Linked DNA regions of Homo sapiens: region 2 is linked to region 1. Evidence: fine-mapped expression QTL. Tissue or cell type: whole blood. Region 1 holds a variant in brackets; the other region holds the start of a gene. All regions are shown on one strand. Distances are from middle to middle.

Region 1 (5,000 bases):
GAATCCCTTGAACCCAGGAGGCGGAGGTTGCGGTGAGCCGAGATTGTGCCATGGCACTCTAGCCTGGGCAATAAGAGCAAAACTCTGTCTCAAAAAAAAAAAAAAAAAAAAAATCACATTCTAAACTCATCTAGGGTACAGTCACATATGTATATGGGTGGAGACAGAATCTTGCTATGTTGCCCAGCCTGGTTTTGAAGTACTGGGCTCAAGTGATCCTCCCATCTCAGCCTCCCGAGATGCTAGGATTACAGGTGCACGCCACCATGCCTGGCTGAAGACTCTTATTTTACAACTTGGTTTATATAACTTTACCGTCATCCTAACAGTCTAGAGTACTACTGTCACACAGCATTCATCTACTAGTTCCTCTGAAATGTCTTCTGTAGTCAGTTTTCTTCTCTTTGCCATTATAGGAGGAAGATGAAAAACTATGGATTTTTAAATATGTCCAATGAAAGCTTAAAAGTTGAAAAATAGTATAAAAATTACCATGTACTCCTTCACCTAGATTCTCCAAATGTTAACATCTTACATAATGTTTAAGATGGTATCTCCCAACTTCTTTTATACTTTCTTGAAAGATGCTGTAGGCTGGGCATGCTGGCTCATGCCTGGAATCCCAGCACTTTGGGAGGCTAAGGTGGGTGGATTGTTTGAGCCCAGGAGTTCGAGACTAGCCTAGACAACATGGCGAAACGTTCTCTCTACAAAAAAAATACAAAAATTAGCCAGGTGTGGTGGCACATGCCTGTAGTCCCAGCTACTTGGAGGGCTGAGGTGAGATTGCTTGAGTCTGGGAGGCGAAGGTTGCAGTGAACTGAGATTGCGCCACTGCACTCCAGCCTGGGTGACAGAGTGAGACCCTGTATCCAAAAAGAAAAAAAAAGTTGCTGTAAGTTTTGGGAAAAGCAATAAGAAAACTGAAGGGCTGCGGTGCACACCTATAGTCCCAGCTACCGAGGATGCTTAGGAGGGATGATCACTTGAGCCCAGAAGTTTGAGGCTGCAGAGAGCTATGATCATACCACTGCCCTTCGGCCTGGGCAACAAAGCGAGGCCCCATCTCTAAAAACTGAAGTGTAAAACTAATGATTTATTTCACTACTGCATATCCTTTTAAGCAATTCTATAATTCTCCCTTTGTCATATTATTTTAGTCCTCTTTAGCATATTTGAGAATTGATGAGTAATGATGAAATAATTCCTAGGATGATGAAATACCAAAACATTTCAATATACAGGAAAAATAAGATCAGTAAAACTCCACAACATTGTTTCGATGTACAAGTGGTAATAGCTAAAATGAGTTTATTCCTTTGGAAAAAAAATAAATTTTCAGGCTGGGCATGGTGACTCATGCCTGTAATCGCAGCACTTCGAGAGATAAGAAGTTTGAGGCCAGCCTGGCCAATATGGTGAAACCCCATTTCTACTAAAAATACAAAAATTAGCTGGGTATGGTGGTACACACCTGTAATCCCAGCTACTCGGGAGGTTGAGGCAGGAGAACCAGTTGAACCCAGGAGGCGGAGGTTGCAGTGAGCCAAGATCGCGCTACTGCACTCCAGCCTGGGGATGGAACAAGACCGCATCTCAAAAATAAAATTAAAAATAAAAATAAATTTTCTCTTTGCTGTTTTGAAGACCTCCAATAAATAAAAGTCATGAAATATACATCTTTACAAGTAGTTAGTACTGCTTTAAAAAAAAAAAGCAAAACTCAAAAACTAAAATTGAGTCCAGACCAGGTGCAGTGGCTCAGGCCTGTAATCCCAGCACTTTGGGAGGCCGAGGTGGGCAGACTGCTTGAGCCCAGGAGTTTGAGACCAATCTGGGCAATACAGACTTCGGTGACACTGATGTTACCCAGACATTTCTTACTACTGTAGGTAGAAAATGAACAGAAATTTAGTTAAATTCAAAATGTATTAATAATTGTTATCAATGTTGATTTTCTGATTTGATCACTGTATTGTGGTTTTAAAAGATGCACTTGGGGAATCTAGGTGAAGATTATAGGGCTATTATTTGTATTATTTTTGCAACTCTCTTTGAAGTCTAAAATTATTTCCAAAGAAAAAGTTTTTTAAAAATTAAGTAT[T/C]AGGCCAGGCATGGTGGCTAACACCTGTAATCTCAGCACTTTGGGTGTCTGAGGCAGGTGGATTGCTTGAGTCCAGGAAGACCAGCCTGAGCAACATGGTAAGACCCTATCTCTATTTAATATAAGAAATATAATCTTTCAAAATATCTATAAGGCCAGGTGCAGTGGCTCATGCCTGTAATCCCAGCACTTCGGGAGGCCAAGGCAGGTGGATTGCCTGAGGCCAGGAGTTCAAGACAAGGCTGGTCAACGTGGTAAAACCCTGTCTCTACTAAAAATACAAAAAATTAGCCAGGCATGGTGGTGGCGCCTGTGATCCCAGCTACTCAGGAGGCTGAGACAGGAGAACTGCTTGAACCTGGGAAGGGGAGATTGCAGTGAGCTGAGATCGCGCTACTGTACTCCAGCCTGGGCGACAGAGCGAGACACTGTCTCAAAAAAAAAAAAAAAAAAAAAAAAATTAGCCAGGCATGGTGGTGGGTGCCTGTAATCCCAGCTACTCGGGAGGCTAAGGCAGAAGAATCACTTGAACCCAGGAGGTGGAGGTTGCAGTGAGCTGAGATTGTGCCAAGCCGAGATTGCACCACTGCACTCCAGCCTGGGAGACAGAGCAAAACTCCGTCTCAAAATAAATAAATAAATAAATAAATAGCTGGGTGTAGTGGCGCATGCCTGTAATCCCAGCTGCTCGGGAGGCTGAGGCAGGAGAATCACTTGAAGCTGGGTGTGTGTATGTGTGTGTGTGCAATGAGCCGAGATAGTACCACTGCACTCTAGCCTGGGCAACACAGTGAGACCTTGTCTCAAAAAAAAGAAAAAAAAAAAAAAAAAAGAAAGAAAGAAAAGAAAATAGAGCATTACAAAGAATAGAACTTGAGATAGTTCTTGAAAGGACAGGTGGAAGTGTCACTCACATCTCACACTGCTTTTATCACATTAGCTCTTCTGCTCCCACACAAACATGGGCACATAACATCTTTAACCATCTATGTATCCTCTACCATGCTCAGCATACTGCTTTGTCTTGTCTGTGGTGGAAACCAAATCATTCATTCATGTATACATTCTCTAATATCTACTGAGCACATACTATGCACCAGGTGTTTTAGGAGCTGGAGATACAACGGTAAACAAAAATCTCTTCCCTCAAGAAGCTTATATTTTAGTGAAAGATGACACAATAGACAAAGTATAATATTTAGAATAGTAGGCAGTGACAGGTATCAAGAACAAAAGGCAAGGAAGAGTTTTTGAAATTGTAGATAAGAATGGTCAGATAATACCTACTGATAAGGTAACTTCTGAGTAAAGGAAGTGAGGGAGCTAGTCATGCAGAAATTAGTGGAGGAAGCCTTCTAGGCAGAGGGGACAGCAACCGCAAAGACCCTCATGTCTTTGTGAGGGCTCACATGTGCTTGACATGTTCCAAAACAGCATGAAGGCTGGGTAGCTGAAGAAAAACGAAAGAAGGACTAGTCAGAAATGTAGTCAGAGAGGTACTAGGATAAGGGTGGCAGGCAGAGGGTACATCAGATTTGTTCTTACAGGTGTTTTTTTATTTTTTGACACAGGGTCTCATTTTGTCGTCAAGGCTGGGGTGCAGTGGCACAGTCATGGCTCACTGCAGCCTCAAGCTCCTGAGCTCAAGCAATCCTCCTGCCTCAGCCTCTCAAGTAACTGGGACTACAGGCACGCGCCAGCATGCTTGGCTAATTTTTAATTTTTTTATAGAGACAGGGTCTTGTTATGATGCCCAAGCTGGTCTCAAACTCCTGGACTCAAACGATCCTCCCACTTGAGCTCCCAAAATGGTGAAATTACAGACATATCCTTTTTTTTTTCTTTTGAGACAGTCTCGCTCTGTCGCCCAGGCTAGAGTGCAGTGGCACGATCTTGGCTCACTGCAAGCTCCACCTCCCGGGTTCACACCATTCTCCTGCCTCAACCTCCCGAGTAGCTGGGACTACAGGTGCGTGTGCCACCATGCCCGGCTAACTCTTTTGTATTTTTTTTAGTGGAGACCATGTTAGCCAGGATGGTCTCAATCTCCTGACCTCGTGATCCGCCTGCCTCAGCCTCCCAAAGTGCTGGTATTACAGGCATGGGCCACCGCGCCCAGCTCATTACAGACATATCTAAATAAGGACTCAGGTTTAATACTCAGACTGAAATGGAAAGCCACTGGATGGTTTTAAGCAGAGAAGTGACACGGTATGACTTAGGTTTCAAAAGAATCACTTGGGTTGCTATGTTGAGAACACATTTAAGAGCCGCAGTAACAAAACAAGGAGAATAGAATCCAAGCTAGAGATGCACAGGCACTGACTAGGGCAGTGGAGATGCAGATCCTAAGTGGTCTAATTCTGGATAGTATTTTGAATATAAAGCAGTAAAATTTACTGATGGACCACATATGAAAAAGACACAGAAGAGTCAACAATGTCTCTTAGTTATCCAAGAGGAGACATCGAGTGGAGACCTTGAGTGGGCCACTAAACATATTAGTCTATGGTAGAGGGAGAGATCCCCGTTAGAGTCATCAGCATTGTTTGGATTTTAGAAAGGTAATATGGTACATATACTGTATCATCTCTCTCTCCCAGCTAGGGCTGAGTAGCTCCCCATAATCAAGCAGTCACATTTCTGCATCATGCAGGATAGCCCAGGTCAGGCTGTACCCCAAAACTAGTTGTGGAACTAGACTTACCAAAAAACAAAAACTCTTGCATTTCAGAACTGCAAATAAAGGATGTGGACCTGCATATCCTCCAATAGCCCATATGTCAGCAAGCCTAGCCCTGGAGGACACCAAGAAGACTCATGAAGGGTCCACTGTCATGCTGAGAAATATGGGTAACATACAAGCATACAAGACAAAAAGTGGGTAGGGAAAACA
Region 2 (6,696 bases), 78 kb before region 1:
AATTCTCTCAACCCTCAAGCAGGTGGAAACCCTCGTCCTACTCTGGATTCCCAGAGTCCCATTTATCTGACCCAAAGAACAACCTTCTTGGAGCAGGGCTCTAGAGGGTAGCAGGGGGTACAGGGGGTGTCAAGTACCTTGGCTATGCCCAGCAGCAGCTCCAGATCCACCAGGAGCATGTGGACATCCCGGTGGAACACAGCTAGCTCAGCCCGGCTCAGCTGGAACATCTTCTCAGGGTCAGGGGCTGCAATCATGCTTCCCTTCCCGGCCCCCAGGAGCCCATTGCAGGCTACTTCCACATAGAGAGTGAGGCTACAAAGATGGGGAGACAGCCTCAGGCTAAGGGACTGGCACAGTACTCCGGGGACTTGGGGAAGGGGCACCCAGGAGGCATCCAGCTGAGCCCAACCTGTCTGCTTCCAGGATCCACTACCCAGAGGATCCCACAGTGTGACAAGAGTGCATGTGGGAGGGTTGTGGTACAAACACCAGATGGATCCCATGTCTTGCTGTCAGAGAGAATAAGTAGCAAAGTTTGGAACCATGTAAAGTACGCTGCTGTTTAGTCTTATATTTCCAAAGTTGTCTTTGCAAAGCACTGCCTTGGTCTTGGAACCCTCTTTGCATATTAAAATCATGTTCGGATCTCCCAGGCTCAAACTTTTAGACCCAAGATCTAAAACCAACACGGCCAACATGGGCGGGCCATTCATTGGAGAACAGGCTGGGCTGTGGTGATGCCATACTTAGGCTTCAGAGAGCAAACACGACTTCCTTAGGGAGGCCTTCCTGACTCCACTTCGCTGCTAAGTCTAGAGCAAATTCCTCAGTGGAGTACCCAGGATTTCCTTCCAGAGCCCTCAGTTTTGTAATTATATGAGTGAATCTGTCTCCCTTTGTTGGCAAGGGCTATTTTATTCACCACCATACTCCCAGTGTCTGAAAGCATCTGAAACAGTGTCAATCTATATAAAATACATTCATAATGTCTAAGAAGTGTTTTTAATGGTGTCATAAAATGTCCATGTTATAACATGGAATGTAAGAAGTCAGGATACAATCTTAACTAGTAAAAACTATACCGGGATGAGCCGGGCACGGTGGCTCATTCCTGTAATCCCAGCACTTTGGGAGACTCAGGCAAGTGGATAGCCTGAGGTCAGCAGTTTGAGACCAGCCTGGCCAACAGAGTCAAACCCCGTCTCTACTAAAAATACAAAAAATTAGCTGGGCATGGTGGTGGGCACCTGTAATCTCAGCTAGTAGGGAGGCTGAGGCAGGAGAATTGCTTGAACCTGGGAGGCGGCGGTCGCAGTGAGCCGAGATCGTGCCATTGCACTCCAGCCTGGGTAACAAAAGCGAAACTCCGTCTCAAAAAAATCCAAAAAAACCCCCCCGAAAAAACAAAAAAAACTATGCCGGAAAGATACACCAAGAACATGAATACTGGGCCAGGTGCGGTGGCTCACGCCTGTAATTCCAGCATTTTGGGAAGCTGAGAGGGGCGGATAACCTGAGGTCAAGAATTTGAGAGTAGCCTGGCCAACACGGTGAAACCCTTTCTCTACCAAAAATAAAAAAAAAATAGCTGGACGTGGTGGCACACACCTGTAATCCCTGCTACTCGGGAAGCTGAGGCATGAGAATCGCTTGAACCTGGGAGGCAGAAGGTACAGTGAGCTGCGATCGTGCTACTGTACTCCAGCATCGGCGACAGAGGGAGACTTCGTCTCAAAAAAAAGAACATGAATGCTGAGATGTTAATAATGTTCATCTCTATTCTAGGGAGTGGAATAACGGTAGTTATTTACTTCTTTGTGCTTTCCTGTATTTACCACAGGCAAACATTGCTATTATTTTTGAGACAAGGTCTCACTCTGTTGCCCAGGCTGCAGTGCAGCGGTGTGATCATGGCTCACTGCAGCCTCATCCTCCTGGGCTCAGGTGATCCTCCCACTCAGCCTCCCAGGGTAGTGTGGGTCACTGCACCCAGCCCATTATTTTTATGGTTAGGAAAAAATCATGCTTTTAAAAGCAAACAATGAGATGTGAGGATGATTGTGCTAGAGCAGAGGCGGGCTTATGAGATCACTCTGGGCCTCAGCTCCTCCTTGCTCACTGGTACTCCCTCCCTGACAGCACTGGTCAACCAGGGCACAGGGACTCACCTTCGGGGGTCTCTTTCCCCCAGCCTGTCAGTCAGGACATAGCTGGTCTTCTCACCCTCTTTGGTTAAACCCTAGTAGGGAGGGGAGTGAGAGAGACAAGGCTTGAGGCTTTTGGACAGTTCAGGTAAAGTGTAAGCCATGGGGAGTCAGGCCCCTCCATCTGGTTCCCAGCTCTGGGTCCTCTCTCCCAAGCAGGGCCAAGATTGGCAAATCAGGGACCCTTGGCAGTAGATGCCCCAACTCCCATGGCAGCCAGCACCATGACCGTCAAATAGCCCCTGTTTACCAGTGGCAAACCCATGGTCTTATGGGAAGGGCCCTGGGAAGGGGTTAGGCAGCCTGAGTGTGGATTCTGGTGGCCTCTGCACCCCTAAATAAATACCGGGAAAGAAACTCCGTGAAGTCAGGGGCAGGTTTGCCTCATTCCCTGCTACACCCTAGTGCTTAAGGGTATGGCCCAGAATGGACACCAGGAGATATTTGCTGAGCCAGTGAAGGGAGGAAGGGATGGTCTCTGCCTTCTTGTAGCCAGGAAGAACAGTCTTAACCCCAGATTGAGAGTCAGTCCAATTTGAAATAGAAGCTGTGTGAACCTGAGTGAGTCAACTACACATCTGTTTCTTAATTTGTAAATGGGTATAAAGACCTACTAGATAGGAGTATAAGGACTAAACCTGATAAGGGTGGAGCATGAATAAGACACTTAACAGTGGTTATAGCTGGGGAATGGGATGGGTGATAAGGAGAGATCCATTACTTTATCTAGAACTGTTTGAAATGTTTTCCTATAAGTTTGTATTATACACAATAAAAACTAAGGACCAATTGCACAGATGCCCAAGTGGCAACTTCCCTAGTCCTGAAATCCTGATACCACCCTGTGGGCAGAGCAACTCAGCTGTGGCTTCTCCAGAGTCCACAGAAGAAGGGCTGTAGTCATTTCAGGGCTGAAATGTGGCCATACCTGGCCCTAGGACAGGGTTCCTCACCTGGACAGGTTCTCCATCACGCCACACCAGACCTTCTCCATCACTTTCCCAGCAAAGGTGAACTTCCTGGCCCACCCATGCCTCTGGGATGGTCAGCTCCACCCGGAACCAGCAGGTCCACCATCTGCAAGAGAGCTGTTGTGATAGGCCTAGAGGTAGAAGTCCTATCCTGATATCCTTCCTTGGATAAAGTGTCGGCAGGGGCTTGAAACTCTCCAAGCATCTGCAGTGTCACAAGGTACTCAGCTTTGAGTCACAAGAAAGGAGCAACAAGGTGAGAAGCAAGATGAGGGAAACAGGCAGAGGCGTCAAAGGTTCGTGATCCCTAGGGTGCCCTTCCTAAGGGATGTCCAGAGGCGGCCACGTGGGAATGAAAACCATCCCCTGAAGACCCAGGGACCAGAGAGCTGTTCCCAGCAGAGGGTGCTGCTCCCAGCAGAGGGTGCTGCTCGATCCCACGTAGTTGTCTACGGCAGAGGGCAGACAACGAAGGTGTGGCTGGGAGCTGGGTTGGGACTTCCCCTAGGCCTGTGGCCCCGCCCACCCGCTGGGCGTTACCTACGTGGGTCCGAAGCTGTCGCCGACCTGCGCGGGGCGGAAGTCCCGCTGGACTGCCTCCTGGTAGGGAAGTCTCTCCGGCGTCAGGAAGCTGGAGAGCACAGCCACAGGGCAGCTGGCCCCAAAAAGCCTGCGTGGGACGGGCCGGTGGGCACATGCTGGAGGCCGCCCCGTTTCCGCCTGGGGGCCAGCTGGCCGGTGGGGCCGCACTTTCCCTGGATCCTCCGCCAAGAGGGCTGCCTGGCCGCTCCGCGGCACAGTCCATTCCCTACCCCCTCCTCCCCGGCCCCTGCCCTGCCCGCGGCGGGCACTTTGTCCCGCGGCCCGGGTGGCTGCAGCTTAGGTTTCTCCCCGGAAGGAAAGCTTGAGGCGCACGGTTGCGGTCGGCCGGCTGCGGGGGACCAGGGGCCACACCTGCCGCGGAGGTTACAGTCGGTAAAGTAGAGCGGCGACACGAACTTCTCCACCCGCTCCAGCGTGGTGCGCCAGTGCTTCAAGGCCGGCGCAGCCGCCATCGCCGGGCTCTCGCTCCTCTTTCCGGAAGGCCCCTGGCGCTACCGTTCCGCTCCACGGCAGGAAACCAAAGGTTCCGGCGTCCAGAGGGCGCCTCCCAGTCCCGGGCAGCTTTTCTTGGAACACCGGCGGCTCTCGGAAGCCCAGCTGCTGTCTGAACTTTGAGCCGAGTTGGAAGCTAGAAACTGTTTTTGAGGCTCTCCTATGTTGTCCGAAATAGTGGGCCGCAGGGAAAATCTCAAAATAAAATGGGAAATTTGACGATTAGAACTCTCGAAAGTCTCAAGACAGAGACTTAGGCCATTCGGCAAGACAGGCGGGAGCCTCAGCTGCTGCAGACCCAGCCTCAGAAGCAGCAACCGGGAGACCTCTGGCTCTAGCTGTCGGTGAACACGGAAAGTGGTGTTTGCTTAACGTGGAGCCAGACTACCCGGAATAGGTGTTTTCATACCGGACGGAGATCAGGGTGTTAGTGAGCAGGGTGGTAGAGCTTTACGCCCAAGTTACTACGACTTACTCGATTACACGCTTTACTGAATGTATATTGCTAACTCTTGCACATCACCAGAAACTCTGGAGTTTGAGGTGGCAGAACAGTCATGGCATTGACGATCCCAATGGAAAAATGTATTTCACCATACAGGACTGTAGAGTCCCGGGAAGCCATAATACCAGAAACAGACCTCCAGTTTCATTCTCATCCCTAGTACTCCACTGACAGCTTTATTTTTTTTCTCCTGGGGTTGCCAAGAGTCTTTGTCTATAAAATCATTAGGAACAAAAAAAAATACACAAGATTAGCCCTGATATTTTAATGGAAATACTGACCAAGTTTACAACATTTCAAATGCAGATCACACGGAAAGGTGACTAAGTACAGAATAACAAATGTGATTTAAAACAAAGATAACCTGCTGCTGCATATAATACAGGTTGGGTTTAGAGCTTGGAGCTCAGATGTCAGACAGCAGGAGGAATAAAAATGCTACTTGTGAAAACCCAGGCTGTAGGTAAAACTTACTCTTTTGTTGGTTGCACTGGTGGGTTGGGACTTTCTCCTGAACTGGCCTTGAAATCCTATCCTGACCTGCAGGCAAGTGCTCTGGACAAAACACTGCAGGGGCAGCAACAGCTGGGGCTGACCCTGATCACACCCCACCAATTTCCCCTATGGTTCCAGGTCAACATGACCTTTCTTGAGGGAACACGGGGATAGGTGAATTATTTGAGAAAACCTCAAGATCTTTCCCCTAAATCAGTACACATGACCACCGCCAAGTCAGACACTGCCCCAGCTTTGCCCTAAAATCTCATCCCACAAAGCTCTTTTTGGCACCCTACACTTTGGCTCACAGTCTCTTCTCCCCAGTACAAAAAAAGCCTAAAATCAGGCCAGGGTGGCTCACACCTGTAATCTCAGCACTTTGCGAGGCCGAGGTGGGAGGACAGCTTGAGGCCAGGAGTTTGAGACCAACCTGGGCAGCATAGCAAGACCCTGTCTCTACAAAAAGTTAAAAAATTAGCTGGGCGTGGTGGCATGCAGCTACTCAGGAGGCCGAGGTGGGAGGACTGCTTGAGCCTGGGAGGTCAAGCCTGCAGTGAGCTATGATCGTGGCACTGCACTCCAGTGTGGGTCATAAAGCGAGACACTGTCTTTAAACAATAAAAGCCTAAAATCAGAGAGGTCTACCATGTGTTTTGAAAATCCAGGAGCCAAAAAATTTTGTTTTTCTTTTTGGTGGTGGTGGTGATTTTTAACTAAAAAGCAAACATAAAACACACAGAACATTGCTGGTTACAACTAAGACTTGCGTAATGGTTGCTGAAGAAAAATCCACCAGAGTACTGGGAGGGGCTCAGTTGGTCTTTGTTCAGAAAGTCCAGGTTAACCACATAGAAAAATCCTAATCATTCATGTTTAAATGTCTGCTAGTTTAAATTTATGTAATTAAAAAAATAGGTATCCCATTTCAAATTCTCTCCCTCCCAACTCCATTTATAAGGTATACCACATGCCTTATGCACACTTTTTTTTCAAACACTGGTTTGGTATTTAAGTTGCTCACCCCCATCCATCACCAATGTGAATAAGAAAAAATATATAGAAATACAAACTACATAGCTTGACAACTTACCCAAATATAAAATATTTTCAGATTATTTGAACAAGGGAAAAAAACACGTACTAAAAGACTTAAGTATTCTAAGATTTTGGAATATTTTGATTTGGGACAAGTAACAAGTATTTTAAGCAAAATCCTGTTTCTACCCTGGATAAGGAACTGAAGTCAAAATCCCTGCTTCACAGTATTTTCTGGTGAGGACAAGGGACGTGGGTTGAGAGTTTATTCCTTAAGTAAGAACCAAGCTTTATTTATTTACAAAAAAAAAAAAAAAAAAGTTGGGGGCAAAGGGGAAGACAAGTTTTACACAAAAGTACTACAATGGTAACTCCCTTTGGTAAA

The links. PIP is the estimated chance that this variant, and not a neighbour inherited with it, causes the effect.
Region 2: MAN2C1 starts here. The variant in region 1 is fine-mapped to the expression of MAN2C1 in whole blood (TOPMed, PIP above 0.99). The same link has a PIP of 0.9 or more in blood mononuclear cells.

What each region holds. Positions count from the first base shown.
Region 1 is chr15:75,442,842-75,447,841 of GRCh38, forward strand. The region is part of intron 1 of SIN3A (SIN3 transcription regulator family member A); the gene reads right to left. Among named protein-coding and RNA genes, the nearest start is that of SIN3A, 6.3 kb to the right of the region's middle. The variant T/C (reference allele first, on the strand shown) is at 2,105.
Region 2 is chr15:75,364,351-75,371,046 of GRCh38, forward strand. It overlaps MAN2C1 (mannosidase alpha class 2C member 1), which reads right to left and starts at 4,257. Exons shown (of 26, transcript NM_006715.4): 1 at 4,133-4,257; 2 at 3,723-3,848; 3 at 3,161-3,284; 4 at 2,172-2,242; 5 at 138-315. The coding sequence starts at 4,233. It overlaps SIN3A (SIN3 transcription regulator family member A), which reads right to left. Exons shown (of 21, transcript NM_001145358.2): 21 at 5,029-6,696. RefSeq lists a silencer at 3,924-4,003 and enhancers at 4,030-4,562, 4,134-4,453, 4,138-4,432.